Linked DNA regions of Homo sapiens. The protein of the gene in region 1 interacts with the protein of each later gene in a pairwise test. Each region holds a gene or a part of one and is shown on either strand. Other genes may lie near its edges. The genes, in order: BET1, KCNJ6, ASGR2 and CYBC1.

Evidence for each region.
Region 2: the proteins of BET1 (region 1) and KCNJ6 interact in binary tests that used the Homo sapiens proteins (3 or more experiments, as listed by UniProt).
Region 3: the proteins of BET1 (region 1) and ASGR2 interact in binary tests that used the Homo sapiens proteins (3 or more experiments, as listed by UniProt).
Region 4: the proteins of BET1 (region 1) and CYBC1 interact in binary tests that used the Homo sapiens proteins (3 or more experiments, as listed by UniProt).

What each region holds. Positions count from the first base shown.
Region 1 is NC_000007.14:93,993,928-94,001,703, forward strand, and holds part of BET1 (BET1 homolog), read right to left. Parts: intron 5,368-7,776; coding exon 5,243-5,367; intron 2,395-5,242; coding exon 2,338-2,394; intron 459-2,337; coding exon 303-458; 3' UTR 1-302. UniProt on the Homo sapiens protein: Required for vesicular transport from the ER to the Golgi complex. Functions as a SNARE involved in the docking process of ER-derived vesicles with the cis-Golgi membrane.
Region 2 is NC_000021.9:37,906,158-37,913,933, forward strand, and holds part of KCNJ6 (G protein-activated inward rectifier potassium channel 2), read right to left. Parts: intron 1-7,776. UniProt on the Homo sapiens protein: Inward rectifier potassium channels are characterized by a greater tendency to allow potassium to flow into the cell rather than out of it.
Region 3 is NC_000017.11:7,111,225-7,119,120, reverse strand, and holds the start of ASGR2 (asialoglycoprotein receptor 2), read left to right. Parts: upstream 1-4,298; 5' UTR 4,299-4,309; coding exon of another isoform or gene 4,310-4,506; intron 4,507-4,722; exon of another isoform or gene 4,723-4,810; coding exon of another isoform or gene 4,811-4,880; coding exon 4,881-5,004; intron 5,005-7,896. UniProt on the Homo sapiens protein: Mediates the endocytosis of plasma glycoproteins to which the terminal sialic acid residue on their complex carbohydrate moieties has been removed. The receptor recognizes terminal galactose and N-acetylgalactosamine units.
Region 4 is NC_000017.11:82,441,596-82,448,038, reverse strand, and holds the end of CYBC1 (cytochrome b-245 chaperone 1), read left to right. Parts: intron 1-417; coding exon 418-459; intron 460-1,342; coding exon 1,343-1,416; intron 1,417-2,078; coding exon 2,079-2,175; intron 2,176-3,447; coding exon 3,448-3,592; intron 3,593-3,914; coding exon 3,915-4,035; 3' UTR 4,036-5,446; downstream 5,447-6,443. Other genes in the region: HEXD (hexosaminidase D), read right to left, coding at 5,447-5,862, 6,150-6,239. UniProt on the Homo sapiens protein: Functions as a chaperone necessary for a stable expression of the CYBA and CYBB subunits of the cytochrome b-245 heterodimer. Controls the phagocyte respiratory burst and is essential for innate immunity.

The DNA.
Region 1 (7,776 bases):
ACAAAATATTATAATGCTATTTAATCTGACAGTTGGCAAACAATAGAAAAACAAACTGGAAATTAGTGGAGCCACACCCTCTCACTACCCCTGAAAATAGGGGCTAAAATGAGTCATTAAGAAACAGTATTCAAAGACCACTGTATTAACTAATGTGATTTATAAAATAAGCAAAATTCAGCAATTTTCAATGGAAAATGCCACAGTATTTGAACACTAGGAATGTTTTGATGCTGATTTTTATCAAAGTGGTACTGCAAGCCATTAAGTTGGAACAAATTCCAAATTCACAATTACATGCATCACCTCAGTTTAATAATCCAATAAATGATAAAAAAGACAAATAAAGAAAACAGCATCATATAGCACAGCAGCTTTGTTTGGCTCCCTCTGGATAAAATCTTCAGTTTGCCCATAGTTTTACCTAGAAATCCAGTTGTGGAATCAAATTGTGAATCCTATCAGAGATAAAGGCAAATAAAATATCACAGTTAGATTCTAAGAGTCTACATATGCATATCCAAGTAATTGAATAACTGTTACCATAGTACATTTGTAATGACAGTTTTGTGTTTAATCAATTCAGGAGCCTGTTGATAACCTTGGATAATCAGCCTGATTTCTCCATGCAAAATACAGTAATACTCTCAGCGAATAAAAAGCTCTTTCATTGTCCAATAAACACTTCTTTCAGCTCCACAGAGTAATTCAACAACTCAAAACTATTTAGGTGTTATTCCAATTATGTGGATAAAAAAAATTAACAATAAATGTAAGTACTTTGTGCATTATCACACAGATTTTTTTCCCCACTTTTTGTTGTGCCATTGCTCTCCAAGGTCAAATGGTTGACTGCTACCCAAGTAGAGGATTTCATCCAAAATGTAATACGGTTAGCAGTTAAATGTACTTTTATTTACTTATTTATTTATTTAGAGACGGAGTCTCGCTCGTTGCCCAGGCTGGAGTGCAGTGGTGCAATCTCAGCTCACTGCAATCTCTGCCTCCCAGGTTCAAGTGATTCTCCTGCCTCAGCCTCCCAAGTAGCTGGGACTACAGGCGCACGCCACCACGCCCAGCTAATTTTTTTGTATTTTTAGTAGAGATGGGGTTTCACCATGTTGGCCAGGGTGGTCTTGAACTACTGACCTCAGGTAATCCGCCCACCTCATCCTCCCAAAATGTTGGGAGTATAGGCGTGAGCTACCATGCTAGGCCTTGGACCTTTACTTTTAATATCCTTTTGTTTAGACAGCTGACTTTGAAGTAGAGTCTATTAAGTTAAGAGAATATCATATAGAGGTAGTAAAATGTGATAAGGACTATAAATATGGATGGGGAAAAACTAACGTATTAAAACATAGCTGGAAAATCCTAAAGATGAGAGAGGCTTAGGTAGGGACTAGAAATATTACACATACTTTCATAGAAATTATAATATCCTGAGATGTAAAAGCCCTGGCATAATAATAAATATCCTTTGTATAGCTCAGTGTCTATGTGGCTCATATACTTTAGATCTATGGATCTTCACCATGGTTATGCATCAGAATCACCGGAGATGCTTTTTCATGGTTATGCATCAGAATCACCAGAGATGCTTTTTTCAAAATATTTACATCTAGATCCCTCCTCACGAAATTCTAAATCAGTATATTTAAAGACAGAATCAGGCATATACATTTTTAAAGAGGTCCCTAGCTTATTATAGCGCACAAGCTTAGCAAGAACATTGCTTTTGATGCCAAATTCATTTTTGAATAGCACAATTTTAAAAGCACATGGAACCAGAGAAGGTTCAGAGAAGCTTGACATTCAAGATAAACGTTAACAAATGGAAGGGGACTCTAACAAGAAAAGGTATATGTTGTTAGAGAGAAAAGGCTCTGGGCTGTTCAAATGTATGAGCACTTTTTTCATAAGTGATCCTTAGGAAATCAAGCAAAAGAGTAAGTATCCATTAAGTGAACGACATTTAGTTGGTTGGATATCAAGTGCCTTTTGATTGCTTGGTTAATAAATTACTAGTAGTCTCTACTATTGAGACTTCTAAGACTACTCAAAATAGTCATTTGTCTTGTTTTTAACAATCATTCTAAAAACAGGATTAAAGATATATTGGCTTCCACTTGTTCCTCCCACTTACATGCGTAAGACGAGATGAAAAATGCAAAAGCATGGCAAAATAAACCTTATAGTTATTCCAAACACATTAGATACAAATGGACGGGAATCAAGGACTTACGATCTCTGTATTTCAAAATGAATAAAAGTTGAAATTCTATTATTTGCGAATATTAGATCAAATTTCTTAAAGTTAAAATCATAACCACTTACCATTTCAGCTAATAATTTATTCTGGGTTTTAACTTCATGGCCTATTTCAATGGAAAGCTATAAAGAAGAAGGTATACACAGGATTACTCACATAAAAGTATTCAAGTGTTATAAAGTAAAAATAATGTCATTCTAAGCATACACATTTTCTGAAATGAAACGGTCTTCTAGACACATAAACTCTCTTTTTCTGATACTTTTTCTACCAAGATCAATAAAAAATAAATTTGGAATTTCTACTCCTCCCAATTATGGACATTTCTTCTTTCCTCTTTATTTTAATTTCATCTTAATATTCAATTCCATCTTTTAATTTGGTATGTACTACTTCTCTCTGATTCTCTTAACCTTGTATGCTTTTATATCTTTATTATATTCCTACAAAAGCTACAAATTCCTACAAATATCTGTATATTTCCTTCTTACATTTTATTTATTATATTTTATAAATTATATATATATATTTTAACTTATTTTAGGTTTGGGGGTACAGGTGAAGGTTTGTTATACAGTTAAACTCATGTCACATGGATTTGTTGTACGGATTATTTCGTCAACCAAGAATTAAGCCTAGTACCCAACCTTATTACATTTTGAAAGATCTAGAAGTACCCATACAACCAATTCAAATCTAGACAGAAGTATTTAATATTTTCCTAATGAAATGTTACATTACTTTAAATATGTCTAAACTGATTTTTCCTTAGTTTAAAGGTTTTTGCTTTAAAATATGATAATAAATTGAAAAAAATAAATATTAGTGTTACTTACTTCCTGAAGCTCTGAAGAAAAGAGCCATAGCTTACAAAATACAATACTATAGCTAATTATGACAACTATTCAAACCAAAATCTATCTAATACTTTATAGGACAGATTCATCAAAGGCTTCACTTCCAAGATATTTAAATAAATAGAATCATCTACTGAAAATCTTGGTAAATCACTGCAAATATTGTTCTTCATCTGTGTGAAAGCACATGGGATAATACTGATACAAAACCATACTAGAATTCTATAGATCAGAACATGAGCTTTCCTCCCAGATTTAACAACTCAGAGATAATAAAGTAACTATAAAGCTAGACTGCCCACATTACTCAACTTCTATCACTGTCATTCATGCCAAGGAAAAATATTTCCAGGACATCACAACTTTCTTCTAACAAGTAATCTAAATTATCTACATTGGGGGGGTTTTTAAAGGCATTTAATTCTTAAGTCCTTCCAAGTGTTGTATTTTTAAAATTAACATTATACAATATTACTTAGTTCATAAATCAACTTTAGTTTAATATGACTTTGAAAACAATCCTGTTTCAAAATCTAAAGGTCTCCAGACTGAATGTAATTCGATTTTCCAAAGACTATATTGAAATACCAATTAAGTTTTATCAACATGGGCTTCTACTGAATGCTTTATAAGTGAACGTCATGTTCATTATAATGCAGTATCAATCACATATATTATTAAAATCATCTTCGTGTAATTCTTTGGTTCAATACAAATTTACTCAACACCATTGATAAGGAATTATGCTAAGTGCTATATAGAATATAAAGTAAGTACAATAGAAAACCTGCATTCTGGTAAATTCCTTTTACATACAAATAATGCCAATGCAAATCACTATGAATAAGTGCTACAGAAATGGCACAAATGGTCTTATGTTCATAAGAAGAAAAGTTACTTTTGGATGTGGTAATCAGGTAAAAGTTTGGAGGGAGGGGGTGCAATGAAGTGGGGCGGATGTGGATAAGCAGCACTTCAGTTGATCTAAGAAGGAAGTGGAGGCTTAAGGCAAAGGGATAGTGTGATATGGGGGTGGGAAAGTGACAGCATACAGAGGACACAAAGTGTAATTTGTCTAGCAGGAAGCACATACAGATTCTGGAAGTGTGAGAGATAAGATCTCAAAAGCTAAGGCCAATTTTTGAAAGATCTATCTGATTTAATCAAGCTACGAAGCATGAACTTTATTAAATCATGGAAGGACGCTGAAGACTTCTGGGAGTGCAGGATGCAAGTTTTAAAATATTCTAAACGAGGACTGTGGCAATGATTATATAGCTCAGATCATAATGTGCAAAAAAACAGGAACAGATAGGTTAAGATGTTCTTCCAATAGTTCAACTAAGAAAACCAGGGGATAGGCCAGGTGCGGTGGCTCACACCTATAATCCCAGCACTTTGGGAGGCCAAGGCGGGCGGATCACCTGAGATAAAGAGTTCAAGACCAGCCTGGCCAACATGGTAAAACCCTGTCTCTGCTAAAAATACAAAAATTAGCCGGGTGTGGTGGCGGGCACCTGCAATCGCAGCTATTTGGGAGGCTGAGACAGGGGGATTGCTTTAACCTAGGAGGCAGAGGTTGCAGTGAGCCAAAACTGCACCATTGCACTCCAGCCTGGGCAACAAGAGCAAAACTCCATCTCAAAAAAAAAGAAAAGAAAAGAAAACCAGGGGATAGTATTAGAAATAGAAAGGCAAAGATAGAAACATCAGAAAGACAGTGTAAGACTCAGTGACTGAAATGAAGTACAAAGGTAGAAATAAGAAAGACCAAGATTTATAGCTTAGAAGGCTAGATTAAAAAAAGCAGAAGAGCTACTTGGGGGTGGAAGATGGACAGCTCTGTTTGAGACATTACAGCAGACAGCATACAGTATACAAAAAAGAGCTGGAGATTTTTCTTAAGTATTAAAAAAAATCTATCTTTTGATGTGCCACATTTTTTAACTTACTCAAAGCACAGTCTAAATTTTGAGTGTACTTTGACCTCACAAAACCACAGTATCTGAGTAAATGAATTCCTTAGGATGACGTCAATAAGAATATATAGTTTATAATTATATGTATAGAAATATATGAATTAAAACACATATAATATTTGTTATATACTTACAGATTTTATAGCAGTTACTTTGCTTCTCAGACTTTCAGTGAGCCTCTCATTTTCTTCTTCACAGGCACTATACCCACTATTAGCATAGCCATAGTTCCCATAGTTGCCAGGAGGTACTCCTTCACCTGCAAGGATCAGAGTCACAAAGGTGGTTCTAGAGAAGCCACTTTTGAAACACTGTTAGTTAGGAAAGAACTGAAAAAGACCCCTGGAGGGCCTTGCAAACCACATATGTCTCTAATATTCATACTCCAAATGAATTTAAAAAATAAATAACCAAACAGAGATCAGACCAATTCTTTCCATTACTCTCTGTTAACCAAAGAATATTCAGTTCAGTTCATTTTGATACACATTTCTGGATTGCTTATTGATTGTCCAGAAGATACAAAAATAGGTACTAATACACAAGAATATTCAGGATACATTCCCTGCTCAAGAGAAACATATATTTTAATGAAAGTTCTAAAAGCAGTAACATCATCTACCCATTGAAAAAGCGTGGCTGTGAAGAGGAAGGGAAAAGTGGTTAATACAGAAGGACGGGAGCTCATAGCGGCGAGGGTTCTTTACTGGCATCTCTTTCTCTTAAATAGACAGTTGGACAGGAAAGAGCCAAAGCAGGGAGGGGGCAAACTGAAGCTCTAGGAAAGAGACACAATAACTTATGCAGAATGCTAGCTGAGAGTCAAGAGGGAGATTCATTTATTCTTCAACATATATTTGAAGAATTACCATGTATCAGATCCACTGTTCTTTCTAGGTGCTACTTTTATGGAACTCTAAGGGATAAGAATGTACACCTCCCTGCCTAATATAGTACTTCATAGTCATCAGGCTATCAAACAACAGATGGAGTGGGCCTTAGTGAATACATATATAAATATGTTGGGCGATTAACAGGAAACGGCATAGTTCAGGGTGTTAGTTAACTATACTTTTTTTTTTTTTTTGAGGTGGAGTCTCGCTCTGTCGCCCAAGCTGGAGTGCAGTGGCGCGATCTCGGCTCACTGCAAGCTCCGCCTCCCAGGTTCAGGCCATTCTCCTGCCTCAGCCTCCCGAGCAGCTGGGACTACAGGTGCCCGCCATCACACCTGGCTAATTTTTTTTTTTTTTGTATTTTTTAGCAGAGACAGGGTTTCACCCTGTTAGCCAGGATGGTCTCGATCTCCTGACCTCATGATCCATCCGCCTCGGCCCCCCAAAGTGCTGGGATTACAGGCGTGAACTTTTTTTTAACATAATTGTTGCCATCAATTTTCTCAGTAAAGGGAGAAAACGGGCTATCTGCTGAAGAATGGGTGATCATTCAGAATATACAGTAAGGAGAATGATGGAGGAAAGGGACCGGGACTGCACAGGATTACTAAAGATAAAACAAACTTGTTTGAGGCAATATACTACGGTGGCTTCAATCGTCCCAGGTGTGTGGTTTTTTTCTGCAGAAGAGTTCATCGGCCTGAGTTAGTCCAGGAGAAGGTGGATGGTTGGACTAATCTATAGTTGGAAGCTTATAATATTGAGGTTGCAGAAAAACGGAGCCCCAAGAGGTTGAGACTGCTTGCCAAAAGAGCGGTTGAAGATCTGGATTATGGGGATTAGATTGGACAGATATTAAAGCAGATTCAACAGTGACTTGAGAATGTGGGGAAAGGAATGATATCAAAACTAGAAGTCTCAGAGCCTGCTGCACACAGTTGCTTGCACCTATAATCCCAGCTACTTGGGAAGCTGAGGGAGGCAGGATCACTTGAGGCCAGGAATTTGAGACCAGCCTGGGCAACACAGCAAGACCTCATCTATTAAAAACAAACAAAACTAGAAGTCTCCATATGCTCAATGAGCAGATGCAGCAGCAGTGACAGGAGGTAACAGCACTGATCACTGAAGGACAGTCAAGGTGTGAATAGGAACTTCTTTCAAGGCACAATAGAAATTTCATTTTCCCTATGAAGCAAAACTCTCACTGATTTCTTACAGCTCTGATTGTATGTAACACTAATATTGCACTCTGTACAGTACTATAAGGGAAGAGAATAAGTTTGTTTGACTCAACACTGTATGTCCCCCCATAAACCTACAAACACATACACACTGTAAGGCACACTCAATGAATACATGATGTGAACTAATTAATGAAAAGAATCTGAGTTCACTGTTATTGAACTTTGAATGTGCATACCTTTGTCCAGAATGGAATCATATGCTTCTCTGAAGGCAAAGACAGTATCTCATGCTTCCATATCCTCCCTGTACCTAATGAGTACTTTATATGCAGCAGATACCTATGCAATCTCCACCACCACAAAAACCACAACAAAATATTGAAGAAGTATTTTCCAAACAGAAGAGAGTTGTACTATCTGAATTTTGCTGCTGACACACTATCCATGACACACTATCCATGAAGCTCTCCACATGTTTTATTATAAAAGAACTCAAGGAGTGGGCATATTTTTCCGCTCAGTCAAATATTAAAATCACCATTTAAAAATGCATTCTTACTCTGTTAACCAATGATACTCTGTGCAAAC
Region 2 (7,776 bases), on another chromosome or scaffold:
GCATAACAGAGAAGCCCTTGCTTTGTGCTCATAATCTTTGCAACTTAGTGTGATCATGAGTATTTTTTCTGATGGACCAAAAGCTTTTTGTTTTTGCTGTTTTTCCCCCCTAGACACTGAGTCCAGGTTAAATCTGCCTCTGCAGTGGGCATTCTGGCATTCCATTTCTAGTTGTGACCCTACCTGGCTCTTGCATGAGCCTGGACTTGGAGGTCTCTATCGTGGGAAGAAGGCTGTGAGAAGGGGCATTGTGTCTGGGTTCCTCCTTAAAGCAGATCTGAGGAAAACCTAAGCCAGTAGCTCCCACCCTTTAGAGTGCATCAGAATCCCTGGAGGGGATGGGCAGATGATTGGCCCTGTCCTCAGGGTTCCTGATCCAGTAGATCGGGGGGTGAGCTTGAGAATTTGCATTTGTAGCCAGCTCCCTGGTGATGCTGCTGCTGGTTCAGGGACACACTATGGGAACCACTGACCTCAGCTGACTTTCATCAGCTCTGATGCCTCCTTTTGTCCACAGAGACCCCCAACAGTGGCCAGTCAAGGAGACATGTGGAGTGTGGGCTTGGGCCCAACACTCCTTGAGTGCTGATTAAAAAAGAGGGCCACCTAATGCGGCCTCTCTTCCAATGACAACACATAATGTCATAGGTTCTTTATTTGCCGTCCTCTTTCTGCCCTCTCTTTATATGCTTTACTACTGTGGGCCCAGCCACCCCAGGAGGGCTAATGAAAATTTAAGAGGGTGAATATGTTTAGGGTATTGACTGGTGAGACCTTGGGAGACAGCTGAAGAGGAAGGAATCTACCCCATTCGTTGCCATTATTGAAACTAGATTTCTTGAGAGGAGGAATTATATGTTAGTAGCACTATATTTTGCACGTTAGAGATGTCTAAAAATCTGAAGTGTGCTCTGCCTAACTCGTCATGGAGTCTTGGCTCTGAAAATGTTGTAAGGTGATGCAAAAACCTCCGAAGAGAGATTTCATTCCTTGTCTTTTGACTGAAGGTAGTGTGTTGACAACAAAAAGCAAGGGTAAAGCTTTTCCATGAGCAGTGAGTCCTGTACCCTTCCTCTTAGTCATGTGATGCTGCTTAGTCATATGATTACTGCATTCCAGACCTGCTCTCATAGACACAAGGTTCGTGTAGGGACTGAGATATCATTTTTGGTTAAATGTGATTCATTTTTTTTATAGAGAAATGATGGCTCCCTCAGTCATAAAGCAATGGCCCCATAGAGTGGTGAGGTCCAGTCTGATTTGTTGACTGAGCCTGAAGGGCATCGCTTCTCTCATAGCCATTAGAAGTGCTCTGTGTTGCAGAGACTTTGAAATACATACACTCCAACCCCAGTTCCTAGCTCTCTCAGCTTCTTTATGCTTCTAGTGACAAAGAATTCAGAGCTGTGTAAATGCAGAGAAGACAGATCACATTACCTCTGCCCCGCTCTGACTACTGAAAATGCTTTCTTATATTGAACCAAAATATGTCACTTTGTAGCTTCCACTGCTGGGTCCCACTTTTATCCCTTAGAGCCCAGCAGAACAATTATAATCCTTCCTTCATCTTCAAATATCAAGATACCTGAAAACAACTATCATGCCTCCTCCCCCACATATTCTCCAGGGAAAACACTCCTAATTCTTTCATCTACTCTAATATTACATGGTTTGGACTCAGGTACTGTCCTGCCTATTCCCTTCTGCACATAGATTGTTGGATTATATCCCTTTTAAATTGAAATGATTGAATGTGGCAGTGAAATAAATCCTGTCCTCAAAAACATTCTCTTCATTAAACAGAAGTTCCACTATGAGACATTATTTACTTTGGAATGGCAAGATATTTGAAGAGGTCAAGAGTTTTCTAATCCAGTATTACTGCCCCATGGAAGGATTAACATGCATTACTGGTATTTACTGTTTCATTTTGATAATGTTTTCCCCTGCATGAATGTATGTGGCTGTGATATCTGAGTTAGGGAAATGGAAACGATGTAAGAGAACCGGAAGTATTATGGATCACCACTCTGTTTCTTCTGGTTCTTCCTCTCATAGTCTTCTCAGATATTTCTCCCTGACATTTCTCTTTTCTAGGTTGTAAGTTTGGCATTAAAGCTGTTCTTTTGCTTCTAGTGAAAAGGTATGGAACTTAGTTTCCAAGTTTTCTCCTTGAGGGAAGCAGAGGTTCTCAAACACTGCTTACAAATTACATGGTCTATTTTCAGGAAAACAATGACTATTAGTAGACTAATTCAACCTAAACTTACAGCATGTATCTAGCCTATGGACATTTAGGGGATTTAAAACAAAATGCAAATTGCTAGTCAACAGCAAGTGCCAGATATTAGAAGACAGCATCTAATTCTTCAGCATTCTTAGACACAATGTGGGTGTAATTGTCAAGATTAGAACATTGCTTTTGAGCATGGGTTGTGAAGTTGGCTTTTCTCCTTTGTGTCTACTTTAACAGATCAGCTAACAGAAATCAAACAATATGTATTTGCATCTCTTTTGTTAAGAATCATCTACACCTACTCCAAAAGTCAACATATCCCAACTAATTTATTTTAAAAAAATACACCACTAAAGAATGATTCAAGGGCACCAGGAAATATTGTCTCTACCAGGAATCTTTTCACCACTGGGACAAATCATTTCCTCTGCCTTACTCTATCCTGATTCACATTAGCTGTATTTCTTTGCTGCCAGACATTTATATCGGGCATGCATACCAAAGACTCCAGTGTGTTCACCCTACCAGTTTCCCTCCTCCTGGATATAGAGCTGAACTACAATTTGCAGCTGCTCTTGCAGTTAGGTATGACCATAGAATATGAATAGGAGTGATATACATTACTTCTAGGCCCGGATCATTAAAATCTTCTACATAATCATCTACTCTCCCTCTTTCCTTGTCTGCTAGTTGGATATCACCACTCAGCAGATCTTAGAAGCCATGTACTAAAGATGACAAAGTGTCCCTCAGCCTGGGTCCTTGTACGGCATCAACCAATTAGATTTATGTGAAAGAAATCTTCTATTTTGTTAAATTAGTGAGATTTAGATATTTTCTGTTTCAAGAACTTTCTAATTAATACAGTATACACAGGCTCATCAAGAACTGAAGTTAATGCCACATTGCAATAAATGAATAAAAACATCTGCTATTTTTAAAGTGCCTACTTTGTGCTGGACACTGCACAAAGAACTTTTTTTTTTTTTTTGGAGACAGAGTCTCCCTCTCACCCAGGCTGGAGTGCAGTGGTGTGATCTCAGCTCACTGCAACATCTGCCTCCTGGGTTCAAGCAATTCTTGTGCCTCAGCCTCCTGAGTAGCTGGGACTACAGGCATGTGCCTCCACACCTGGCTGATTTTTGTATTTTTAGTAGAGATGGGGTTTTGCCACTTTGGCCAGGCTGGTCTCAAGTCATCTCCTGGCCTCAAGGGATCCACCTGACTCGGCCTCCTAAAGTGCTGGGATTATAGGTGTAAGCCACCGCTCCTGGCCTGTGCTAAGAACTTTACTTACATTATCACATGAATCCTCATAACATCTCTGAGGTATATGTTGTTATTATTACTCTTATTGTTATTATTTTATGATAGGGAAAGCAAGGCATAAAGTTGATTAAGGTCACATAGTTAGCATAGTGGATTATATTATTGCCTCCAATTATTCTCTTCCCTCTCTGAAAGATTAGATGTCTCTACCTGTTGCTGCACGGCTTGCAGTGCTTCACTGTGGGAGAAATATACATCTCCTTCCCATTGATCATTGACACTGATGTGACATGTGAATTGTCCGGTCAATGGAATGTGAGTGGATAACTTGTGCCATGTCTGAGCAGAAATGTTAAGGGCCATTGCTTAACTTGGGAGTCTCCTTTTCCTCTGATACTGGGATAGAGTGTTCCAGACCAATTCTTGATCTTGAATTCCAGAATGAAGTCACAGGAGCAGAGCCACAGCTGACCAGCAGAGGCATAGCGCTCCAGAGAATAATACGCCTTTGTTTTGTAAGCCACTGAGATGCTGGGGTTGCTGTTACTGCCCCAAACTTGGCAAAAATGGACAGATACACCTAGACCTTGATGCAGATTCAGTTAGTAAGAAACACCGGAGCCTGTGCTCTTAATCACGGAGCAACACCGCCTACCAAGCACATTGTCAAACTTGCACAAGTTCCTGCTAGATGATACAAGAGAAATTTAAAGCATCATGAAAAAAATCAATTCTTATCCTGGATAAGAAAAAAGTAGATGTCTGTAAGTTTAAAGAGGAAACTGCCACAGGATTTAAACTTAATTTATAGATATGTCTCTCACATTGCATATAATACCTTCAGATTTAGTCCCACAGAACAGTTGTTGGCAAGGACATGGATCTTTTTAGCCACAGATGCACTTTCTGGTTCCTTTTGTAAGGATTTCATGTCGGAAACCACATCTCTGTGACTGGGAATAAGACCGGTGATACATGTTAGCCAAAATCTATTCACTAAAAGAATCACCAGTACTGTATGATTCCTGGTCCTAAGCACAGCCATACAGAAAAAATGAGAAGCATGAGACTCAAGGAGATAATGGGTTTAATCTGACTTGGATACATTTGTATAGACATAAATTAGTCACTTGGTTAAAATTTAGGGTTAACTTTACACATTGTAATTGGGAAAATTGATTGATGGCCTTACTGCATTCCATATAAAATCAGATCTGAATGACCATTTGAACATTGCACACTGCACAAAATCATTCTCTGAGGTTTTGTTTAAACAATGATTCAATTTAGTAACAAATAAATAAATGAATATTTACAACTGATTAGCAGGTATGATTAGATCAAAGCTATAGTTTAGAGAGGATACAGACTCTTCTTTTAATGATGAGACCGCTCTTTGAGGAAAATAATTTCACTATTATTTAATGTTATTAAAATGATAGCAAGTATATGTATATTCTAGTACTTTGCCAGAGGAAATTCAGAATACCATTAGAGCACTAACTGCAATTGTGATTATCTCTTCTTTTTATTGGAGCCTAATTATTTCTAGAAATAATTATTTAAAATGCACTTCAAAATGTATTTTTATCCTAAACAGCTACATTTTATTCTTCTATCTCTCCAAATACTTTCACTAAAATTAAAAAGAAAACTAACTCAACAAAAGTGTTTTGATGATTTTTCAACTTAACTGCCAATTTCCCCCTTACTGGTATTACCAAAGTTAATAATTTTGTAAAACTCCAGAGTGAATCAATTATCTTTTGGTACTTAAATGCCAATTATTGAAGATAAAATGAAGAAACAAGAAATGCCATCTCAATAAGCTATAAATCCAAATTCACTGAATTTAAACATCTTAATTCCACCAAACTTAAAGTTCTAATACAATGAACTTAGAAAAACCAACCTCACTTTGAAAAGTATTGTCAGTTTAAAGCTGGTAGCAATAAGTAACTGCCTTTTCCCCTCACTTTCTTCTTTCCTCCTACTCTGCCTATTTCTGGTCCATTTCCATTTCCATATTACTTACATATCATTTGATAAAGGAAGAACTGGTGAAAAAGAGAAGAGCTTCACCTTATCTGCCTGCCTTTCCATAAAGAGCATTTATCTTGTTTTCATTAAGGTTTACATGGTCAACATTAAACCCTTGAGAACAGCAACATTTTCTACCTGTGAAAATCAGTGAATGGGGTTAAGATTCCATAAGGGTATTTTATTTTTAATCTCCAATGAATTTTTTCTATAACTTCTTAAATAACTATTCTAATTTTTTTCCCTATAAAGTAGAGGTAGACTGAGATGATAGGGAGGAATATGAGACTGAGTTAAAAGCCCTTCTATATTCTCAAGGAAAATAGTTCATGTAAGTCCTATGTATTAAATAAAGACCTGTCTCACACAAAGGAAAACATACTAATGTTTAGGCAATATCTAGATGAGGTAACTATTGTTTAGGCAATACCTAGAAGAGGTATCAAAATGATTTTTTAAAATAGCAAAATGGAACCAAGTGAATGGGGGCGAATTTTCACAAGTTGCTCTCCTTAACAAATCTTACTTGAAATGAGTAAACCAATTATTTTGGAGTATGCTATTGACTGAAAAGGGCATAGTGACACTTTGTTAATCAATTAGCCACCTAGGAAGAAAGCAAGTCATAGTTCGGTGAATAAGCACTGAATATGTGAGCATGGAAACTACCAGAAGTAAAGATTATTGACTGAACAATTTCATATACCTAGATTATTGACACCACCCCCCTTTTTAATTTATTAGAGAAATTGAACTTTAGAACTCAGAAATACATTACTTTGTTTATCTAACAGTCTATATTCTCGTATAGCTTCATCCTCATAATGAACGTCTACTTCCCTTCTGCTGATAATGTCAGATGGAACAAGGCCAAGGAACAGCTGCGTTGTTTAATACTCCACGTGTCACTTCTTCTGTCTACTTTAGGTAGCAACCTTTTCATAAACTAAATTATGGATAAACTTGTCAATACCTATCAGGAACTGAAATGTAAGAAATAGTGTAATAACTCATCCTTTTGCTTAGGTTTGAAATAGATTGCTCTGTCTTCACTAGCAATCATTTGAAAAGACTGGAAGGTAGAAACACACTGCTTTAACCACATCCTGAGTGCTCAGCATGCAATATCTTTAGAAACAACATGTCACACTTGGAAAGCCCAGCAAGGAAAACCAGGATCATATCTTGTTTACCATTAAAAATAACAAACCAGAACCAGCTCAAGACCTCATGCACAAGTGCATCCACAAAACAGGAAAGCAGCCAGGGATATTGTTGAAGCTTTATCAACATTTCCAACCAGTTGCCAAACCTTGACTGGGCTCTGCAATTCAAAGTATACCTTGTAACACCTGGATGGCACTCTGACAGGCATTCTATTTCAAATATGACTGTCACCTTCCTGTATTATTTTTCCTCTTCATATCAGTGACAGTTGTGGTGGTGGGGGACCTACTACCAAGGATGAGAGCAGGGCAAAGACCAGCTTCTCGTAAAGTGAGAGCAGAAGGGCTTGATGGACTTACCTGTTTTCCCTGTATGAATGTTGAAATGGAACTTGAATGGTAATAAATCCTCCCCTCCTGCAGTTTCTTCCTTGTTTGTATTAAGAGAAGTGACTCCTCTCGGTTTCCTACGACTGCAACCTAGGAAATGTAGCCACCTTGCTCACACGCAGGCTTGAAGATGTGATCACTGGCTCTCATCTTGCTAACAAACTCTCTCTCCTTTTCGGAAGCTCACCAGTGTTGTTTTGATTCCTTCCAGTTCTAGACCGAGAGGAAACTATATCTCCACCCTCTTCAGTCCTAGGACCCTTAGAAAGAATTTGGCTGGGCCGGATACGGTGGCTCACGCCTGTAATCCCAGCACTCTGGGAGGCTGAGGCAGGCGGATCACAACGTCATGAGTTCGAGACCAGCCTGACCAACATGGTGAAACCCCGTCTCTACTAAAAATACAAAAATTAGCCAGGTGTTGTGGTGTGCGCCTGTAATCCCAGCTACTCAGGAGGCTGAGGTAGGAGAATCGCTTGAAACCGGGACGCAGAGGTTGCAGTGAGCCGAGATCGAGCCACTGCACTCTAGCCTGGGTGACACAGCGAGACTCCGTCTAAAAAAGAAAGAAAGAAATAACAAACTTGGTTGGCTGGCCTCTCGCTGACCAGGGTGCTTCCACAGCTCCCTTCTGCCATCTATGCCCAACAAAAAGTTAAAGAGAAGAGCGTGAGA
Region 3 (7,896 bases), on another chromosome or scaffold:
TAGTGGGAAATATATTCAGTAGCATGAGACCAGAGAAAAAATAATTTCTCCCAATTTAACTTTTATCATTTAAAAAAAAAAAACCTATGTCTTTTTTTTTTCCTGGAAGATTTTCTAAATTTTATGTTTCAGAGCTTCTATTAATTTTTCTGGAGTTAACAACATGTATATATTTTTTAACTTTCAAAAGGTCTCGTTTTCTGAACAAGTAGAACATACAGGAAATTCTGGCTTATCAACAAAGTGAATTCAGGAAAGCCAATAGAAAAACTGGTAAAGGATATGAAAAGGCAATTCATGCAGGAGGAAACCCAAATGATTAATAAATCGATGAAGAAATGTTCAAACCCACTGTTAGCCAGAAATGCAAAATAAAAGAACAAGGATATGGCATCAGCTTGGCAACAATTGCGATGTTAATAATATCAAGCGACAAAGCCAAAAAGAGAACCCTCGTATACTGCTGGTGGGAGTGTGAACTGGCAGAGCCATTCTGGAAAACAGTCTGGCAGTCCTGAGTGGAATTAGGTATGGCAATACTCTGCGAATGAGCAATACCATTCGGGGATATAGTTTCCTTCCTTCCTTCCTTCCTTCCTTCCTTCCTTCCTTCCTTCCTTCCTTCCTTCCTTCCTTCCTCCCTCCTTTCCTTCGTTTCTCTTTTCTTTTCTTTCATTCCTTTTTTTTTTTTTTTTTTTTTTTTGAGAAAGGGTCTTGCTGTTGCCCAGGCTGGAATGCTGTGGTGCGATCATAGTTCACTGCAGCCTTGAACTCCTGGCCTCAAGTGATCCTCCCAACTCCAGCTTCCCAAGGTGTTGGGATTACAGGCCTGAGCCACCATACCTGGCCTGGATACAGTTTCAAGAGAAATTCTCACCTAGGTCCACATGGGAACACGATGAGGACATCAGTCGTCATGTTAATTGTGATAGTTGTTGGCAACAACCTGAGTTCATTATTAGGGGAAATAAACTGTGATGGATACACACCATTGAATACTGTGCAGCAGTTCATAGCAACAAACCAGATAAACAAATAGCAATGTAACAATCCATTGTAACAAATAGCAATACAAATAGCTCTAAAAAATTTCTTGTTGAGTGAAAAAGATCAGAAACAAATGAGATATATGAAAGTTCTGTGTATGTAAATACAGAACAGATAGACATGCAAACCCCATCACATATTTTATAAGGGTACCTACATATTTAGTAATATATATTGTTTCAGCTATCTACCGATGCATAATAAACCACCCCAAAGCTCCAGTGGCTTAAACCAACTGTTTTTTCTTAAGATTCTCTGGGTCAGAAATTTGGGCAGGGCTAGGCTGGGCGGTCCACGGGGTATTGGTTGGAGTGAAACACTTGGATACAATCAGCTGGTGACTGGGCTGCCCTGGAAACTCCCAGAAGACTTTGCTCACATGTCTGGGGCCTCAGTGCACCTCTGTGTGGCCTCTTTCTCTCTCCATGTGCTGTCTTATCCCCCAGGACTCTCTCTGGCAGGATAGTTGGACTTCCTCATAGCATGGTGACTGACTTCCAAGATTGAAAACTGAAGCTACCAGGTTTCTTGAGGTCCAGGCCCAGAACTGGCAGAGTGTCATTTCTAGTGCTTTCTGTTGGTCAAGGCAAGTCACAGGGCCAGCCCAGACTCAAGGGGAGGGGAAACAGACTCTACCCCTGGCTGAGTGGTGTGACTTGCACATGTGGTGAGGGGAGAAATTGATGGGCACCATCTGTGGGGACTGTCAGGGCACTCAGACTTCTGGCTGCCTATAGAGAGTAGAGAGTATAGAATTAGTGAGGGGAAACAGGATGGGAGCTAGGGAAGAACGAAACAGGACAAAGGTTTAGCTCAGACCTCTGAGGAAGACCTAGTGTCATGAAGTAAGGAATATGACCAATCTAACCTTTGTGTCTGAGGTACAAATAAACCCCAAATCAAAATCAACCAAATAAGGCCGGGCGCGATGGCTCACGCCTATAATCCCAGCACTTTGGGAGTTTGAGATGGGCGGATCACCTGAGGTCAGGAGTTCAAGACCAGCCTGGCCAACATGGTGAAAATACAAATAATTAGCCGGGCGTGGTGGTGCATGCCTGTAATCCCAGCTACTCAGGAGGCTGAGGCAGGAGAATCACTTGAACCCGGGAGGTGGAGGTTGCAGTGAGCTGAGATCGCGCCATTGCATTCCAGCCTGGGTGACAAGAGTGAAACTCTGTCTCAAAAAAAAAAAAAAAAAAAATCAATCAAAGAAAATAGGATTCCATAACCCAAAACAGAAAACCTCCAACAATATGGAAACTTCAGAAATAGTCCAAGTACATGTTAACTTCTAAGTTAAAATGATTTTCAAATAGGGAGAAAGAGAAGGACGCAGATGAGTCTGGCTTTCTCTGTCCCTTCTCTCCCTGTAGTGCCGTGAGTGGGGGTGTAAGTGACAAGCCCTGAAACGTGGAATTGGTTCAGTCAAAGGGGTGGCCAATGAGGATGGCCCCATCCCTGGTTGGCAGTTGGCAAAGCTTGACATGCAGTAGACAATCCATCTGTGAAGCTCTTACCTGTATCTCAGGACTAAATCCACATGCCCCTTAAGATGGGGGCTTCACAGCAGTGTTGTTCAGACTTTGAGTTGTGACCCATTAATGGACTGGGAAACTCAACAGAAGGCACGTAGTAAGGTGAGCATTGTCCCATCAAACTTTAGTGTCAACCGTGTATTTCCAAACGCATTATTCTATTCACTCACTCACTCAGTAGATACTTGTTGAGCAGCTACTGTGTGGCAGGCACTGGGGATCCAGGAGAAAGTAACACATACAAATGCACCTGTGTGTGCGGGTGCTTGTGTGTATGTTCTGGATCACAGCATGAAATTCGTCTCTCGCTGTGGGCTGCAGTCAGAGAGCCCAGCGGCTGCTGCTGCCTGGTGGCTGGGTGGGAATGTCAGGGTACTGGGGGGGTGGCTACTTCCCATGTGGGTCAGCAAGTTACAAGAACAGAAAAGGCCTCTGTTTGAATTCCTTTTCGGCACCCGGGGAAACGAGCAGCTTTATAAGAAACCCTGCCCGTAGCCATCCGCCCAAGTTTGGTGAGGGTCAGAAAATCATGCACAAAAACTGTGTTTTCTTTCCCGAGCTATTGTTAGCGCAAGTGTAGACAGTCAGCCACGTTCCTTGCTTCATGGAAGCCAGTCTTCCTCGTAGGACCATGAAGACCTTTTCTTTTCTTTTTCTTTCTTTCTTTTTTTTTTCTTTGAGATGGAGTTTCTCTCTTGTTGCCCAGGCTGGAGTGCAATGGCGCAATCTTGGCTAATGCAACCTCCGCCTCCCAGGTTCAATCGATTCTCCTGCCTCAGCGTCCTGAGTAGCTGGGATTACAGGCCCCTGCCACCACGCCCGGCTAATTTTTGTATTTTAGTAGAGACAGAGTTTCACCATGTTGGCCAGGCTGGTCTCGAACTCCTGACCTCAGGTGATCCACCCACGTCGGCTTCCCAAAATGCTGGGATTACAGGCGTGAGCCACCGTGCCCGGCCAGACCTTTTGTTATGATGTTATTTTCCCCTCTTTACTCCATTTTGCTTTGCCAGTTTCTCTACTCACCTGGGCCACCACCTAGAGCAAGTTGCCTCATCTCTCCGAGGCTCCGCTTCCGAACCCTGTGAAATGGGAGTAACAGAAGTCCTGCCTCGTGGGGGTGTTGTGCTGTGATAAATGAAGAAACACCTTGGAGAATTTAGGGCAGTGGCTGGGCCTGAGGACAGTGTTTGTGTTGCCTGGGCTGGGGCAGGGTCTGGGCCGGACGGGGCTCTCTGAGGTTGGATTCCTCCTGCGAGGAGAGCTGTTTTTCTGCAAAGCCCCTTCCTCCTCCTGCTGAAGCTTCTGGATTTGAGAGGCTTTACTCTCCAGGAGAGTGAAGCGAGTTGGGCCAGAGCTGAGAGTCTGGTGGCCGAGCCCACAGGAAGCTGGGGTCTGTGGTTCAGATGCCGGATTGGGCAAGAGTAGAGAACTGGTCGCTGTGATCCTGGTCAGGGATATTTGGAGACACCCACAGTTCTGGTAAATTCGGAGGCAGGAAGTGAGAGGGGGAGGGAGAGAGGGAAACGGCAAACTGCACCCCAGCCCCTCCTGGCCTGGCACCCCTTCCAAATGGTGCAATGAGTGGGGTGAGTGGCGTGTGGAGTTGAGCGCAGCCCAGGGGACCCCCCTCTCTGGGAATAAGAACAGAGATAGCCCCGTCCCCTGCCCCCACCCCACAAATGAGTTACAGCTCTGTTTCCTCTTCTGTTTACTGTCCAAAGTCCCAGGCCAGGAGGTGCCAGGTTAGAGCTTGGACACTCAGACCCTCCAGTGCAGGCCTTGCCCGGACCAGCCCCTCCTCCACTCTCCTCTCCCCTGTGAGCTCCACCTGCCCCAGTTCTCCTGGCTTTAACCCCTCCTTGGCCAAGGCCAGGGTTGCCTGCGGGAGCCAGGTGTCCGCTCTCCACACCTTTCACAGGTAACTGAGGCTGGGGAGGCAACTGGGACGAGGATGCTTGGGAACAAGGAGGCCTTGGTTCAGGGATGGGGAGGACCCCATGGGAAGCTGTGGGTGGTCGGGTCCATGAGCGTGGGGAGGGGTCTCCTGGCCAGGTCAAGGCCCAAGCGGTCTCCTGAGAAGGGAAAGGACCCAGCGGGATTTCAAACCTCATCCCAAACGCCCTGCCAACCTCAGATCCTACCCAGGCCACCACCCCGAACCCCTCCGACCCTGCGTTCCATCCCACCATCAACCTCCACGTGAATCTGCACCTCTGCCCCAGCCCCAGCCCTCAGAGCAACCTCAGCCCAGCCCAGCCCAGCTCCAGCTCCAGCTCCAGCCCGGGCCCCATCATGGCCAAGGACTTTCAAGATATCCAGCAGCTGAGCTCGGAGGAAAATGACCATCCTTTCCATCAAGGTGAGGGGCCAGGCACTCGCAGGCTGAATCCCAGGAGAGGAAATCCATTTTTGAAAGGCAAGTGTGCAGTTTCTGCGGCTTTGCTCCCCCTCTGTCTCAGCTCATGATTGCTCTGTCCCTTTGAGGTCTCTGCCGCACCCACTCTGTGAACAGGGACTGAGGAGGGCCCGACACCCCCGCTTGTTCCCTCACCTCACCTTCCTGTCTACCCCAGGACCCCAGGAAAGGCATGTGCCAGAGGTGTGGGGAGATCTGGAAGATAACTGCCTGCCCTTCTCCTCCCAACCCAAGAACACATGTGCCTCGTATGTGCGTGTGCACGTATGTGCATATGAGGAATGCAGATTCAGCTGGGACTCTGTGTGTGTGTGTGAGTGAATGTTGTGTGTGTGTATATGTGCGCGAGAGCGTGCATATGTTGTGTGTGTGTATGTCGTGTATGTGAGAGGGTATGTTGTGTGTGAGAGTGTGTTGTGTGTGTATGTTGTGTGAGTATATGTTGTGTGTATCTTGTGTGTGAGTGTATGTTGTGTGTTGTGTGTGTATCTTGTGCATGTGTGTATGTTGTGCGAGTGTATGTTGTGTATGTGAGTGTGTGTATGTTGTGTGTATGTTGTGTGTATGTATGTTGTGTATGAGTGTGTGTATGTTGTGTGTGTGTACGTTGTGTATGTTGTGTGTGTGTTGTGTGTGTGTATTGTGTGAGTGTATGTATGTTTGTGTGTTGTGTGAGTGTTGTGTATGTTGTGCGTGTGTGTATGTTGTGCGAGTGTGTGTGTTGTGTGTGTATGTTGTGAGTGTGTTATGTATGTTGTGTGTGTGAGTGTGTTGCGTGAGTGTGTGTGTTAGTGTGTGTATGTGATTGTATGTGTGTGTGTGTGTGTGTGTAGAGGTGGGGTGAGTTGGGATGGGTGGGGGACGTGAGCACAGAGAGATCCTGGAAGATCCCTGCTCCTCTCATCTCCCAAGACCCTTCCCTGGATCCTTCTGTAATAAATCTTGACTGAAGGACCTAAGTATCTTGGACATTTTTTTTTTAGAGACAGGAGTGTAGTGGCAGGATCATAGCTCACTGCAACCTCGAACTCCTGGGCTCAAGCCATCCTCCCACCTCAGCCTCCCAAGTAGTTAGGACTTACAGGTGTGCACCACTGTGCCTGGCAAATTAAAAAAAATTTTTTAGAGAAATGGGGTCTTGCTATGTTGCCCAGGCTGGTGGGAAAAGATTTTAAGGTGAGAGAGATCTGAGCAGTGCTAGGCAGAAGGGCAAGAGCCAGGAATGGAGGAGTGTCAGGTGTGTGGGTGCTGGTGGTGGAGCCGGGTTCCATGGAGGCAGGAGGAGCAGGGGCTTGGAGCTTAGGAAGGGGATTGGTTAGCTGGGCTGGAATGAGGGACTCCTCATTCCTGAGGCTGGCCAACCGAGGGAGGGCCGGTGCTGGGCAGGGCAGGGCAGGGGACAGGAGGGATAGGAGGTCCCTCCCGAGGACCACTCAGGAACACCAGTAGCATCTCCTCTCTCTGTAGGGGGCTGGCTGGACTTCCCACCAGGCGGTGTCCCCACAGGCAGAGGCCCTGTCCGCCTCACTCTCCTCTGCAACTCCAGTGCCCACACGGCACCCGGTACATAGTGAACACTCAGAGAGAATACGGGATGCTGCTGAATCTTCTGAGGGTGACAGAATTTAGAGTTTGAGCAGGAGGCTTGGAGAGAGGCCAGGATTTCTGAAATTAATGGGAGAGTGAGCTCACGCGAATGGGCTGAGGGACACCAGTGAGGGACCGTCTGAAGGGATGTAGCAAAGTCACCGCATTTCCCTCCAGCAGCCCGGGTGGTGGGGGCTGGGGGAACGTCATCATGGGAGCTGACACTGATCAGCTGCTCACCGGGGCCCATCTTCCACTTGTCTCAGCACTTGATTTTTTTCTGCTACCCCCTTTTTCTTTTAAAGATTTCAATTATGCATGTATTAAGGGTCCCACAGCTCACTCATTCTCTTTCCATTTTTTAATTCTTTTTTCTCCCAGTGTTTCATTTTATAGAGTTATTGCTGTTCATTAAGTTAACTAAAATTTTCCCCTTCCCCTCCCCCTCCCCTCCCCTCCTTTCCTTCCCTCGCTTCCCCTCCCCTCTCTCTCTCTCATCTCACTCTGTTGCCCAGGCTGGAATGCAGTAGCTTGTCACAACTCACTGTGGCCTCCACCTCCTGGGCTCAGGCGATCCTTCCACTTCAGCCTCCCAGGTAGCTGGGACTATAGGCATGTGGCACCACACCTGGCTAATTAAAAATTTTTTTTTGTAGAGACGGTTTTGCCATGTAGAGGGGTTTTGCCATGCTGCCCAGACTAGTCTTGAGCTCCTGGGCTCAAGTGATTCCCCCCGTGTCGACCTCCCAAAGTGCTGGGATTACAGATGTGATCCACAGTGCCTGGCCCTAAATTTTTCTTACGCATTTCTCATCTTCCATTATTTCCATCCAGTGTGTTTTTTCTTTTCTTTCTTTTCTTTTTTTTTTTTTTGGAGGCGGAGTCTCGCTCTGTTGCCCAGGCCGGAGTGCAGTGGCGCGATCTTGGCTCACTGCAAGCTCTGCCTCCCGGGTTCATGCCATTCTCCTGCCTCAGCCTCCCGAGTAGCTGGGACTACAGGCGCCTGCCACCACGTCTGGCTAATTTTTTGTATTTTTAGTAGAGATGGGGTTTCACCATGTTAGCCAGGATGGTGTCGATCTCCTGACCTCATGATCTGCCCGCCTTGGCCTCCCACAGTGCTGGGATTCCAGGCGTGAGCCACGGCGCCTGGCCAGTGTGTTTTTTCATTTCAGACATTGTAGTTTTTATCTCTAGAAGTTCACCTGGGGACTCTTAAATATCCTCCACAATTCTACTTAATTTTTTGAACATAATGGGATATGGCTATAATATCTGTTTTACCATCCTTGCCTGCTAATTCTA
Region 4 (6,443 bases), on another chromosome or scaffold:
ACCACGTGCTACTGGAGTAACACCCGTGTCAGTTATGGAGCCTCACACAGCAGATGTGTCTAGTAAATACTGTGAATAGCGTATACTGTGTTTTGCTTTTGTTTTCTTTAGTAATGAGGTCTCGTTATGTTGCCCAGGCTGGTCTCAAACTCCTGAGCTCAAGCGCTCTTCCTTCCTCGGCCTCCCAGGTAGCTGGGATTACAAGTGTGTGATACTACGCCCAGCTATACTGCATTATTGAACCAGCTTCCTGGCTGTTTCCCCTACTCTGAACCTGGTGGTCTGTAACCCCTGACCACAGCTGTTCCTACAGTGGGAAGGGCCTGCTCATCAGGGGCTGTGGCTCCTGGTCCCGCTGCACCAGGGAGGTGGGGTCTTACCGGGATCAATAGGCAGGCAGTCACTTTCTCTTCATAGGAATCTTGTCGATTGGCCTGGCTGCTGCCTACTACAGCGGAGGTAAAGCACCCCCCGCCCCACCCCCCCATGACTGTCTCAGCTGTTTGGAAAACAGAGAAAAGAAGGAAAAACTGTCATTTGTGACTGTCCATGGGGCGGCCTTTAGGATCGGCACCTCTGCCCCTTGATTGCTGGCGGGCACCGCGCCCTCCATGCGCTGCTGTTCTTCCGCACGCCCATCCTGCCCAGCGCTCAGCCCACATTTCACTTCTTTTTTTTTTTTTTTTGAGACGGAGTCTCGCTCTGTCACCCAGGCTGGAGTGCAGTGGCGGGATCTCGGCTCACTGCAAGCTCCGCCTCCCGGGTTCACGCCATTCTCCTGCCTCAGCCTCCCAAGTAGCTGGGACTACAGGCGCCCGCCACTACGCCCGGCTAATTTTTTGTATTTTTAGTAGAGACGGGGTTTCACCGTTTTAGCCGGGATGGTCTCGATCTCCTGACCTCGTGATCCGCCCGCCTCGGCCTCCCAAAGTGCTGGGATTACAGGCGTGAGCCACTGCGCCCGGCCACATTTCACTTCTTAAGTCTTCTGTGTTTTTGGGTCATCAAATATTCCCGGAGAGATGCTCTTGAGGATCTAAGATCCAGCTGTGGGATGAGGTGTACTTCCCACCCTGCCACAATCACTGGGCCTGCCCAGACGGGCAGAGGCCCTGTGCGCCCCACCTGCCTCTCTCACGTGGACTCTGGGGGTCAGAGCTGGGTGGGGTGTGCCGCGTGTGGGTCCTGAGTGGCCAGGGCAGGGTCAGCAGCACAGGAAGCTGCCCAGGGGGTCCTTGCAAGCGTGGGCTCTGGCCAGCGTCTGGGGGAGGCTGTGCTAGGCGGGGCCTCCCGTGGGCATGTCCCTGGAGCTCACAGGCTGGCGCCCTATGCCCATCTCCAGATAGCCTGGGCTGGAAGCTCTTCTACGTCACAGGCTGCCTGTTTGTGGCTGTGCAGAACTTGGAGGACTGGGAGGTAAGGCCGGCTCGGGTGCGGGACAGAGTCCAGGGCTGTTCAGCTCCTGGGTTTTTTGCAATGGGAATGAAAGGAGGAGGAAGGGCCCTGGGTGGCCTAGCGCCTCCCCGTCCTGAAGCGTTGGTCCCTGCTTGGAGGTCTCCGTTCATCAGGACATGGCCCCTGCACTCATCTGGGACCGTTCTTGGCCAAGGAATTCCCCGAAGGCATTTTTCTCTTAGAAGCTCTCCATGACTATCTTCACCAAAGTGCTTTCTTCCCAGAGTTGCCACAATGGGATGCGAGTCAGCTTTCCCCGTGGCCGGCCCTCCCACCTCGGAGCCCCTCATGAGTCCTTTCAGCCTGGCCCAGTGCTGCCCTCTGACCTCCATGCCCTCGTTTGCTGGTTCCACTGCCTCCCTGCACTTGTTTTGCCTGCAGGGTGGAGCAAGCGCCTGCTGCACCTGCCCACCTCTCCATTTCCCAACAGGAGTCGGGTTGGCTGCCGATATCCGGCTCTGACAGAGCAGCACCTGTGGCTTCAGGGGTTTGGGTTCTGACTGGGAGGGTCCCCAGCCCCCCTTCTTGAGTGTCCACCCTGGTGAGGGTGGGGGTGAGGCCCCAGCGGCCACGGGGCCCCCGTTCCTGGAGGTTCATGGTGGTCAGTGCATGTCGGTTTCCAGGAAGCCATCTTCGACAAGAGCACAGGGAAGGTTGTTTTGAAGACGTTCAGCCTCTACAAGAAGCTGCTGACTCTTTTCAGAGCTGGCCACGACCAGGGTGAGTCGTGGGGAGCGTGGGGACATGGGACACGGCCACAGAGGCGGCGCACTTGGGCGTCTGGGTGACTCACGGGGCCTAGAGGGGGGCCTGGAAGTGCCTTTGGTCCAAGCTCACCTGCTTGGTGACCAGGGTTGTGTCCTGCCCGCTGGAAGCAGGATCCCACGGATACGCCCCACCTGCTCACCTGCTCAGCAGGGTCCTAGAGCCTCCTGGGTTCTTTAGAGGTTTGGCCCCTGGGGAGAGTGGGAGGAGCAGGGGTCTGAGGAGCAGGGGTCTGGCAGAGCAGGGGTCTGAGGAGCAGGGGTCTGGCCCACCCGGGCTCGGGCAGCCTCTGTTTAGCTGCATTCTCCCGTCTGCCTGGCAGCCACTTGTCCGCAGGTGCAGTCTGGCCCCAGCGGCAGGTCACAGGACGGGGCAGGGAGAGCCATGGCAGCCCGTGGGCGTTCTGGAGTGGGGCCACCTGGCTTCTTGCGGGCCTTGGCGCTGCTCCAGCTTTCCTGTGGGTTCTACTGGGCCTGCAGTAGGGGCTGGATGGTCCGAGGAACTCCCCACCCTTGAGCCTGGGCACTGGCCCAGCTGTGGTCAGTACCAGTTTCCTGTAGATGCTGCCGCACAGACAGACAGAGGCCCCGGGGTCCGGCCGCCCATGCATAGCCCCAGAGGGGACAGATTCTGGCGACCAGAGTTGCTGGGCAGTCTTGGGTTTAGTGCCGCAATGCTGCACTTCTGACAGGCTGCTTCCTGGATCCCTGCAGGGACCTGGCCAGGGCATTGGCCCCAGGTCACCTGTGGCTTTGGGGAGAGCAGTTGCAGGGCTGGCCTGGGCTGTGGGAGGCAGCTGTGCCGTTTTCTGACAGCCATTGGGACCGCCCCAGTACCCGAAGAGGTGGCTGCCCTGAGTTGCCACGGGAAACTGCAGGGTGGCCCTGGCTCAGCAGCCAACCTTGGGGAGACCTGGAGGAACAGTGCAGTGTAAAGATGGCCTCGCGCTGAGCGGGTCCCCGCAGTCGGCACTCCCAGGAGAACCAGCGGGCTGTGCATGTGACCCGCCAGCCTGCACCGCGGGCACGTCCTTCCCACCCAGAGGACCCTGCACTGCCTTCAGGGCCACAGCAGTCCTCCGGGGCCCAGCCTCAGGCAGGAAACAGCAAATGCTTTTGCTGCCAACCAAGTGTGGCTGTCGCTTTCGATGATGCCAGTGGCGCTGGTGCGACTGCCGGGCAGCATGTGTGGGCGGGGATGGCTCGGCCACTGACCGTCTCCCCGCAGTGGTGGTCCTGCTCCATGATGTCCGTGATGTGAGCGTGGAGGAGGAGAAGGTCCGGTACTTCGGGAAAGGCTACATGGTGGTGCTCCGGCTTGCGACGGGCTTCTCCCACCCCCTCACGCAGAGTGCAGTCATGGGCCACCGCAGGTAAGGCTGTGGGACTTTGATCTGGCCGGAGCTGCAGCCGTAGCAGGTCACTCCCGTTCCTGACTGCCCAGAGCTATGGGGCAGCTGGGAGAGGAGATGAGTTTGTGGACGGGACACAGAGGGGCCCACGGGAAGCGTGTGCAGGCTCAGGGGCAGCCCCACTGTGACGGGGAGGCTGGGAGCAGGCCAGGAAGTGCTGGGTCCAGTTTGGGAGCTCCAGGGTCTGCGGGAGGTAGGTGGTCGAGGAGGAGACTGCTGTGGGGTCTCACGGTGCCCTATGCCGAGGTGACCTGACCTTCCTCCCGTTGCCGGCCTCGCCCAGTGATGTGGAAGCCATCGCCAAGCTCATCACCAGCTTCCTGGAGCTGCACTGCCTTGAGAGCCCCACAGAGCTGTCTCAGAGCAGCGACAGTGAGGCCGGTGACCCTGCAAGCCAGAGCTGACAGCCCCACTGTGCCTGAGCCCGTGCACCGCCCACAGGACCCATGGCACATTCCCGGTGTGCCTGAGCCCGTGCACCGCCCACAGGACCCGTGGCACATTCCCGGTGTGCCTGAGCCCGTGCACCGCCCACAGGACCCGTGGCACATTCCCGGTGTGCCTGAGCCCGTGCACCGCCCACAGGACCCGTGGCACATTCCCGGTGTGCCTGAGCCCGTGCACCGCCCACAGGACCCGTGGCCTTGGCTTCAGTTGGTGCCTCCAGCCGAGTTGGCCTATTGCCTGCTCATGCTGCTGCTTGCACACTGCATGAAACAGCAGGCCAGACCAGGACATCCAGACTTTCTCCATCGTGAGGCCTGGGCCTGCCTTTCTGCAGCCGGAGGTCTCGCCAGCCCTGGACTCCTGCTTTGGGCCACAGCAAGACCTCGGGCGAGTGGAGAGGCGGGGCCAGGCCGGGCCCTTGTGGGTGCTGATGCTGCATGTTGTCCCCGACACAGCGTCCTCTCCCTGGTGGACATCCCCAGCGGTCAGGTGCTTCCCCAAGGGCAGTGAGGGGTGAACATCCAGGGCCTACCTGGCTGTGCACGCTGCAGCCACACTGTGGAAGCTGCCCCTCCCCGAGGACCCGCCTCCCTTGCTGATGCCAGGATCTCGGCGCATAGACCACTCTGCCCCAGCGGTCGTCACAGAAAGGTCTCTCTGTTCCTCACACTCAGCTTCAGCATAAGCTGTGAGGCCAGAAAAAAGGTCAGCTCTTCTAGTATCGTGCAGTGCTTAAAAACCGGGAGCTCCAGCCGGGCGCAGTGGTTCATGCCAGTAATCCCAGCACTTTCGGAGGCCGAGGTGGGAGGATTGCTTGAGGCCAGGAGTTCAAGACCAGCCTGGGCAACACAGCAAGATCCTGTCTTTGTAAAAAAACTAACCAAACAGGAAAAACTGGGAGATTTTCTGCAGAAATTGAGTTCCAGCCTCTCTCGAACCTGGGAAGACCTGGCAGGAGGGGGCTGGGCTCTCGGCTACAGACTTCTCCCCACCCCGTAGGAGCTGAACGCCAACCATCCTGACCCGCCAGTGCTCTTGGTCTCCTGAGTGTACCCAGGTCCTCCCAGGTGCGGTGTGCACCGAGCGCGCCTGGCCTGATGCCCTGGCCTGTGAGCTGGGGACTCCTGGGCCCTGTGAGCCCCTAGGCGGCAGGCCCAGGAATGGCTGGGTAGGACAGGGAACACCTTTGCCCCACGTCTGGCTGTGACCTCGGTGAAAGCCGACAGGAGAGAGATGGGACCCTCCTCCTCAGTAGTGGCTGCCAGTCCCTCGTTGCAGGACAGGGTCATCATAACCATAAATAACCCTTCACGTGTCACCTGCAGCTTCCACTCTTTATTTCCAAAGAATCAGTGTCACACATGCAGATCACAAAGCGGGTCTCCCTGTGCTGCTTCCTTCTGTGTTTTCTAGTCTCTCCCCCAGGGGCTGCCCAGGGCCCTCAGGAACTGAGTGTGGGCAAGACACTGCTGGGCCAGAGGGCACGACGCCCACGTGGGCCCGTATTGCCCAGGCCATTTGGCAGTGCAGAGCCCCCCCAGCCTCCAGCAGGAGCCCCCTGGCATGAGCTCTCCCCTCAGGGGTCCTGAGCAACGTCCCTGCCAGGGCTGGTGGGTGGCAGCGGGGGGGCAGACACCTCGCTGAGGTCCTGCAGCAGAGCTTGCAGCCGCTGCAGGCTGGGGTGCACGTTTTCCTCCAGCCACTCCTCCACGGCATCCGGGTAGAAAGCCAGCTGCAGGGCAGCCTCCAGCTCCTGCACGAGGGTGCTCCACTGTGCCAGGAGGCTGCAGGTGAGGGCGCCATGAACGCACAGTCTGCACACTTGGGACTTGCCCTCAGCCCCATGGTCAGTACTGCCCTGTGCCTCAGTTCACCTGTGAAATGGGGCTACTGACCCTACCTCATCGGCATGTCGGGAGGAACAAGTCGGTGACAGCTGCACATCTGAGACCAGAGGGCCTTTTACAACTAGGGGCTCACCCTCTGCTCTCTAGTTGAGGGACATGTCAGCAACAGCAGCAGTTCTCAGGGAACCCATGGCTGCACGGCCTATAAGAGCCCAGGGCCTCACCTGAGCGCTGCGGGCTGGATGTGCTGAACCATGACCGGGTGGATGAGCTTCCGCTGGCGGTGGTAGGGGCTGAACCAGCCAGTGACATACCTGGGGCAAATCCACATAGGGGTGTGCCGCGGGCTACCAAGGCAGCCGTGGGGCGGCTTTGCAGTAATACAGAAAATGTTTAAGAATGGGGTTGACATTTCTAAGTCTTATGTCCCCCAGAAAGTCTTTGTGAAGGATGAGGCTGCCTCCTCCTGTGCCTGGGAGTGGGGGGACTTGTGAACCTGCCCCTCACCAGCACCTGTC